Linked DNA regions of Homo sapiens. The protein of the gene in region 1 interacts with the protein of each later gene in a biochemical or structural test. Each region holds a gene or a part of one and is shown on either strand. Other genes may lie near its edges.

What was found. The genes of interacting proteins can lie anywhere in the genome.
Region 2: of the proteins of USP16 (region 1) and CDK1, one has a biochemical effect on the other in vitro, tested with the Homo sapiens proteins (3 studies listed by BioGRID).

The regions. Positions count from the first base shown.
Region 1 is NC_000021.9:29,050,823-29,055,821, reverse strand, and holds the end of USP16 (ubiquitin carboxyl-terminal hydrolase 16), read right to left. Parts: intron 2,021-4,999; coding exon 1,864-2,020; intron 1,757-1,863; coding exon 1,635-1,756; 3' UTR 1,334-1,634; downstream 1-1,333. UniProt on the Homo sapiens protein: Specifically deubiquitinates 'Lys-120' of histone H2A (H2AK119Ub), a specific tag for epigenetic transcriptional repression, thereby acting as a coactivator.
Region 2 is NC_000010.11:60,791,915-60,795,352, forward strand, and holds the end of CDK1 (cyclin-dependent kinase 1), read left to right. Parts: coding exon 1-139; intron 140-233; coding exon 234-375; intron 376-1,962; coding exon 1,963-2,061; 3' UTR 2,062-2,938; downstream 2,939-3,438. UniProt on the Homo sapiens protein: Plays a key role in the control of the eukaryotic cell cycle by modulating the centrosome cycle as well as mitotic onset; promotes G2-M transition via association with multiple interphase cyclins.

The sequences.
Region 1 (4,999 bases):
TTGTTAAAATCAGTAAGGAGTGTTGAAAAAGCCAAGAACATTATAAATAAATTATTATAAATAATCATACTGAATTTTATAGGACATGTGCTACTATATGTGTTGGTTATGTAAGGTCCTTAATACTGTTTGAAATTGTGTGTGTATGTATTTCTTGAGACAGGGTGTTGCTCTGTCGCACAGGCAGTGGTAAAATCTCAGCTCACTGCAACCTCTGCTGTTGGGCTCAGGCAATCCACCCACCTCCGCCTCCTGAAAAGCTGGGGACACAGGCAAACACTACCACATTTGGCTAATTTTTAAGTTTTTTGTAGAGATAGGGTCTCACTATGTTACCCAGGCTGGTCTCAAACTCCTGGGCTCAACGTTTCCTACTGCCTTGACCTCCCAGAGTCCTGGGATTACAAGCATAAGCCACCGCACCAGCCTGTTTTTAGTATTCTTTCCAAGAGATTTTAGAAGCAGTATGACTGACTGGGTATTACATAAACTCAACAGGTGTTTGTTAGGAATGATACAACTCTCATTACTGCCACAGCAAGTTAGAAATGTTCATCGTATGTCGAAGTTGTCCTCAGAGAACCTTTCAAGAAGTTCAGAGACGCTTGGTGTCCCTAAGCTCTTTGTGTTGCATGTAACTCAAACAGTGGCTGACTTGGGACAGTTCACAGGCTTTCTCTGGTATGCTGGTATTAAGGGGTTTGGTACCCAATTATACTCATAGGAGTGAGACTGGTTTGTCTTACATCTGTCCAAAATCAGTTGACCACTGGCACAGAGCAAATACAGAGTAAGGCCTTGTATACCCCAGCTTATGCACACTATGGCATCAGAAGGCTTATAAAGAAACATTGCTCCCATTTATATTCTGCTGTCAATATAGATGCTTATAAAATTAACACACTTGTATGGCCCAGCGCGGTGGCTCAAGCCTGTAATCCCAGCACTTTGGGAGGCCAAGGCAGGTGGATCACGAGGTCAGGAGATCGAGACCATCCTGGCTAACACGGTGAAACCCTGTCTCTACTAAAAATACAAATAATTAGCTGGGCGTGGTGGCGGGCGCCTGTAGTCCCAGCTGCTCGGGAGGCTGAGACAGGAGAATGGCGTGAACCTAGGAGGCAGAGCTTGCAGTAAGCTGAGATCGCACCACTGCACTCCAGCCTGGGCGACAGAGCAAGACTCCGTCTCAAAAAAAAAAAAAAAAAAAAAAAAAAAAAATTAACACACTTGTAATGAAGCTTCATTAGCCAGTCTGATGAAATATTTTTTAAAGTGTTACCTAGTAGGATAAGTCAATAGAAGTTAAAATCTTCCCAGTAATAAAACAAGATTTTAGGGTAAGTCAGTTTATTGATGTGTTGTGATCCATCACCCAGATATATTAAACACAAAGTACTTAAGTAATTCAGGATTTCCTTTCCAGAAACAAAGCAGGAATAAAAACCACTATGACAATATAAAACCTTTGTACATTTTTAGGTATTTTTCCCTTCAATATTTAAATAAACATGATTTCTTCTGGCATGTATTTAATGTTAAGTGAACATGATTTTAATTAGTCTTTTTTTATCGTTATTTCAGCCATTATAAAAGCCATAAATGTGTTTCCAGAAAAAGTGCTTTTGATATTATTACAGTATTCTCTCATAAAATAGGAGGTACGCTTGTGAGTTTAGTACTTTAGTTGTAGGCACAGCTTGCACATGTGTGTCGCTGATGTGAAACCACTGCCCTTTTGATTCCATTTCAAAATCTGTCATGAGAAAATGAAAAATCAAACATAAATGGAAAGATTCAAGTTGATTACTTTTTGGTTTTGCCGTAATCTGCTGAGTGCCTGAATTTTCCAAGACATCTTACCTTGTGGAATATCACCGTGAAGAACAAGATTAGAGAGATGACTATTTGCGGTTCTTGCCTTGGCATAGGCAGTGTAATGCCCCGACCTCATAGTACCACTGTGTTCAACAACTCCATATAAGGAATAGAGTACCCTTGTATTTTCTTCTGCAACATTCTTTAAAAATGAGTAGAATCCAAAAGTTAGTTCTAGTTCCATTTACACAGATGTCATGGGCAAGACAAGTTTACACTATGCAAAGGGTCTTTAACCATTACTTTGAGAGTGCAGAAATCATTCATGAGTCTACTCTTTTCTCCATACCTCTTCTCAGCCTGAGACACTTCTGTTTTTATTATAAATTCACCATTGTTCCCCTGGTAGAAAAGCTGTAAGCCACAGGCCACTTGATGCAGTTACCTGGCTCAGATACCAAATAACTGAATTCAACTTGCCAGTTTCTTTAGGAGCCTGAGGATAATTCTTAACAACCCTAGCTATTAACAACTCTGAATACCCTGTTTAAAAAAAGGTAAGCCCTGAACAGGAAGAGAACAGTATTTTAGGTTGTGCCAAAAATTACCCCTTACATCTTTAAATGTCCCCAAGGGAGTTGGTGAGAAGCACATTCAACCTCTCAAGTGTTCACTTTCCCCACGAGAGAGTGCACGCTGCTTATTCTTTCAGGACTCTATATGCCATAGGGCTGGCAACAGGAACAGGCATTCTCTGGGCCAGGAGCCACTTTTCAGACAACTATTTATGTTCTCATGTAAAAGTCCGTAACAGGCATCACGGCCCTTCAGTAGTACTGTCTCCTATACTCAGCTTCCCAATCTGTGCCTCCATATTCACTGAAGAACTTAGTACTTCTCCGTCCATCTATGATTCTCACAGGACTTTAAATGCCATTCCATTTTAGTCAACCACACCCAGGACTAGAGTCTGGGCTTGTCATCACTCAGAATTGTTCAACTTCATAAAATTTTTTTTGAGACAGGGTCTCACTCCGTCACCCAGGCTGGAGTGCAGTGGCATGATCTCAGCTCAATGCAACCTCTGCCTCCTGGGCTCAAGTGATCCTCCCGCCTCAGCCTCTGGAATAGCTGGGACTACAGGTGCACACCACCATGACCTGCTAAATTAATTTTTTGTAGAGATGGGGTTTCAGCATGTTGCCTGGGCTGGTCTCAAACTCCTGAGCTGAAGGGACATAAATCTTATTTTTAGTCTTAGTCCACAAGTCTTCTATTTATTCAACTCTCATCTCACCTATTCTGTACTCTTTAACCTAACAGGATCTCCAATGCTCATATTCTCCTCACCTATGAAGACTTTTGGCTTCATTCCTGATATGGTTTGGCTGTGTCCCTACCCAAATCTCATCTTGAGTTGTAGCTCCCACAATTCCCACATGTCATGGGAGGGTACCCGTTGGGACGCAACTGAATCATGGGAGCAGGTCTTTCCCATCCTTATTCTTGATAGTGAATAAGCCTCATGAGAGCTGATGGTTTCTTAAGGGGGAGTTTCCCTCCACAAGCTCTTGCTTTGCCCGCTGCCATCCATGTAAGATGTGACGTGCTCCTCCTTGCCTTCCGCCATGACTGTGAGGCCTCCCCAGCCATGTGGAACTGTAAACCTCTTTCTTTTGTAAATTGCCCAGTCTTGCCCAGTATATCTTGTCCAGTATATCTTTATCAGCAGCATGGAAACTGACATAATATAATTCCCATATGCAGTCTAGACCATTGCTATTCAAAATGTGGTCCATGAACAGCCAGCATCAGCATCACCTGAGAGTTTACATTAAACATGCAGAATTTTTGATCCCATACTAGACCTACAGAATCAAAATTTGTAGGTCTGATTCCCACATACACATTAAAGTTTGGGAACTTCAATCACATGTATCACTTACAAATAATCTCCTCCATATCCAATTCATCACAAAACCTCACCCTGAATCCTATAATGTACCTGCCATGCCCCAAACCCAGATGGCCACTACTGCCAAGAAACAAAAGTATAATAAATGATCATGTACCTTGTCATAGTCCTCAATGTGACCATAATCTTATAAATTGTCCTTAGCGGCCTCTTCCATTATGCCCATCACAGCAACTGGCCCAGACTTTTTTTTTTTTTTGAGGGAGTTTCTTGCTCTGTCACCTAGGCAGGAGTGCAGTGACGCAATCTCGGCTCACTGCAGCTCTGCCTCCCAGGTTCCAGCAATTCTCCTGCCTCAGCCTCCCGAGTAGCTGGGATTACAGGCGCACACCACCATGCCTGGCTAATTTTTGTATTTTCAGTAGAGACAGGGTTTCACCATGCTGGCCAGGCTGGTCTCGAACTCCTCACCTCAAGTGATCCACCCGCCTCGGCCTCCCAAAGTGTTGGCATTACAGGCGTAAGCCACCACGCCCAGCCCCAAATTCTTCAACATGGAGATTCTTTGAGATCCTTTGTGGTGTCCTCACTTTCTACCCCTGCCTCTTCCACTCAGATACTTAGGAGGGTCCTGTCATTGGCCATCTCCTTTTTCTCTCTTCAGACTCTATACACAAGGGATCCCATCTTCTCATAGTTTAAACTGCCACATATGTACTGATTTCTAAATCTGTGCCCTGGGCCCATCCTAACCTCTCTGCTATAGGTCTCAGATATGTATATCCAAATGTTTTCTAGACTAAGCACATTAATTTCTCAAAGGTATCTGACACTCAAATGTATCTAAAACTGAAGTCATTATCCTTTCTCTACCTGCTTTTCTCAACCTGCTTTTCTCCCTATATATCCTATCTCAATTTACAGCACTCCCATCTGTCGTGCCAGGCCTCAGGAATCATCCTCAACCCTTTCTCTGCCACCCTCAGCATCCACTTATAAAAGGCCTCTGCCTCACCTTACAGTGCCAATCAATCATTAAGTCTGGTTAATTCTACCTCCTGAAATATTCCTTCTATCTCCCCATCTCCTGCCCAACTTTAAGCCCTCATCAACTACTGGCTGAATTAATACAACAGCCTCCAAACTCACTTCCCCACCTCTAGTCTTTCCGTCCTAAAATTCAGCCTTCATACATCAACAAGTAACCTACGTCATATGAAGATCTGACCATGCCACCCCAGTGCTTTAAACTCCTCAGGGCTCCCC
Region 2 (3,438 bases), on another chromosome or scaffold:
CAGAAGTATTGCTGGGGTCAGCTCGTTACTCAACTCCAGTTGACATTTGGAGTATAGGCACCATATTTGCTGAACTAGCAACTAAGAAACCACTTTTCCATGGGGATTCAGAAATTGATCAACTCTTCAGGATTTTCAGGTAGCTATTAAAAACTGAGATAATAAAGGTAACATATATGTAACAATGAGATTACATTTATGCTTTAAGAAATTTTTAATTTCCTGTTTTTTAGAGCTTTGGGCACTCCCAATAATGAAGTGTGGCCAGAAGTGGAATCTTTACAGGACTATAAGAATACATTTCCCAAATGGAAACCAGGAAGCCTAGCATCCCATGTCAAAAACTTGGATGAAAATGGCTTGGATTTGCTCTCGGTAAGGAGTGCCCTTGATACTGACTTTCAAATTATTGATGATTCTGAATATATTCAGTTCTTTGTTTTGCCTAGAAAATAGGAAGAACACTAACATTTTTGAGCTAGGTGTCTGTTATGTACATTGTATTATACTAGCTTCATTTTAGATATCAGGAGGCACTAGTGGCTTTGAGAGGAGGATTTAGCATTAGTTTTTGTTTTTTATCTGACAGGTAGCTATGGATATTCTGAGGGAGAAGCCAGGATTAATACACATTTTTTTTTTTAAGTTGCTGAATTGTAGTGGCTCTCCTTTCTAGCATTTTTGTCACTATTGAGCCCTCTTAGTTTATGCTAGACGTGTTTTTCTTATTGGTTGATATTTTAAATTATTAAAGCCATCTTCTGAATAAGCTTTATTCGCACTTTGTACCTAGTTTCTCCATCAGAAGGATCTATTGCTATACCATTGTATACATTTTCTCATTGGTCTTCGGGTTACTTTCAGAGTGTAAAGACTCCTTATGCCACAAAATTAAGCTTAGATTTCCCCCAAATCAAATACTATAAATCAGATTCCTTAGTCTAGCCACAATTGACATATCTTGGAGTGGATAAATCTTTGTTGCTGGCATTGTTCTGTGCATCATAACTTGTTTAGTGGCATGTCATCACTGTCTTCTACTCTCTAGATGCCATTAGTATACTCTTCACAGTTAGGACAACCAAAAGTGTCTCCAGATATTGCCAAATGTCTCCTGATGGGCAAAGTCTATCCCAGTTGCGAACCATTATTGTAAATTAAACTTGGTTTCAAATTTGAGCTTTATTCCTTAGCTCTGGGAACTTGGGCAAGTTACTTCCCTTCGAGCCTCAATGTCCTCATTTGTAAAATGACATTAATACCTACTTTTAGCTGTGGGAATTGAGTACCATGATTTATACAAAGCAGTTTGTATGGTGCTGGTTACATGAGAGTTCAGATGGTAACTAGTTAGTAAAAAATCTCTAGTGTGCTTGTTGATTTTATTTTATTTTAGTATTTCTTAAAGATCAAATTTAACATCAATCCTAAACTTTATTTAGCTTTTTCTGGCGCGTAAACTAACATACTAAGTTGTGTGACTATAATTCATTTAGTGACTCATTTTTAGCTATTTTTATAACACATTGTGCTATGGGGGGTTTTGGAACTTGCTGGAAGCTACATCAGAAACTGCCATAGTTAATTGCCATTTCAAGAATGTTGTAAATAACTCAGGTGGCCGTTTAATTCTCAATGTAAATATAATTAACTAGACGTCTTTCCTATATTTGTGTCTCAGTTTTAAAGCTATTTCTGGATGCTTGAGTCTTACCGTAATTGATAACAAAAAGAGGTTATTGAGAATATCTATGATTTACAGAGTAAGTTATTCTAGACCTCAAGAGTGAAATGTAGGGGAGGAGACATTTGTGTGTTAAACTAATGGAAATGCTCATTTAATAGATATTCACTGAAAGTATTAGTTTTGGTTTATTGCTAGAAAAGTTGAGGTTTTATGGAGATTTTTGTAAAAAATGGTTTATTTCCTAAATAAATATCTCTTTTTCTTTTTTCTCCCAGAAAATGTTAATCTATGATCCAGCCAAACGAATTTCTGGCAAAATGGCACTGAATCATCCATATTTTAATGATTTGGACAATCAGATTAAGAAGATGTAGCTTTCTGACAAAAAGTTTCCATATGTTATATCAACAGATAGTTGTGTTTTTATTGTTAACTCTTGTCTATTTTTGTCTTATATATATTTCTTTGTTATCAAACTTCAGCTGTACTTCGTCTTCTAATTTCAAAAATATAACTTAAAAATGTAAATATTCTATATGAATTTAAATATAATTCTGTAAATGTGTGTAGGTCTCACTGTAACAACTATTTGTTACTATAATAAAACTATAATATTGATGTCAGGAATCAGGAAAAAATTTGAGTTGGCTTAAATCATCTCAGTCCTTATGGCAGTTTTATTTTCCTGTAGTTGGAACTACTAAAATTTAGGAAAATGCTAAGTTCAAGTTTCGTAATGCTTTGAAGTATTTTTATGCTCTGAATGTTTAAATGTTCTCATCAGTTTCTTGCCATGTTGTTAACTATACAACCTGGCTAAAGATGAATATTTTTCTACTGGTATTTTAATTTTTGACCTAAATGTTTAAGCATTCGGAATGAGAAAACTATACAGATTTGAGAAATGATGCTAAATTTATAGGAGTTTTCAGTAACTTAAAAAGCTAACATGAGAGCATGCCAAAATTTGCTAAGTCTTACAAAGATCAAGGGCTGTCCGCAACAGGGAAGAACAGTTTTGAAAATTTATGAACTATCTTATTTTTAGGTAGGTTTTGAAAGCTTTTTGTCTAAGTGAATTCTTATGCCTTGGTCAGAGTAATAACTGAAGGAGTTGCTTATCTTGGCTTTCGAGTCTGAGTTTAAAACTACACATTTTGACATAGTGTTTATTAGCAGCCATCTAAAAAGGCTCTAATGTATATTTAACTAAAATTACTAGCTTTGGGAATTAAACTGTTTAACAAATAATGCTGCTCATTGTGATTCTTACCTATAAGCAGCCTAATTTGAATTATTTGCTGCAATCAAGAGAAGTGTACAATAGTTTTATTACTTTTTTAGTGTACTTCTATCCTTTTTCCAACTATATCTCCTCTATTTTTCCTCCTCGTTAACAGGCTAGAATGTGCATTCCTGGGTTACCGATTTTTACACTCAATTGGATGTGTAATGAGGGATCTATCTAATCCATCTTGTCTTGGAAATTTTGCACTCTAGAAGAAAGTGTGTCACTTTCTTCAGCAGCGAGACCTTTTAAGATTGGTGGTTTGGTTGTCCTGTTCTGTGGTCTTTGGTGGAAGCCAGTTTGTTGTAAGAGAATGTAGAGCTTATTAATGTAAGTCATTTGGGGTTATATTGTGGAGGGTTGTTTAGGATTGCATGGCAGGAATTGGGTAAATGAAAGGTAACACTAAAGATTGGAGATGGTATAATGGCATATCTACAGGTCTGTGTTTCCTTATCTGCGA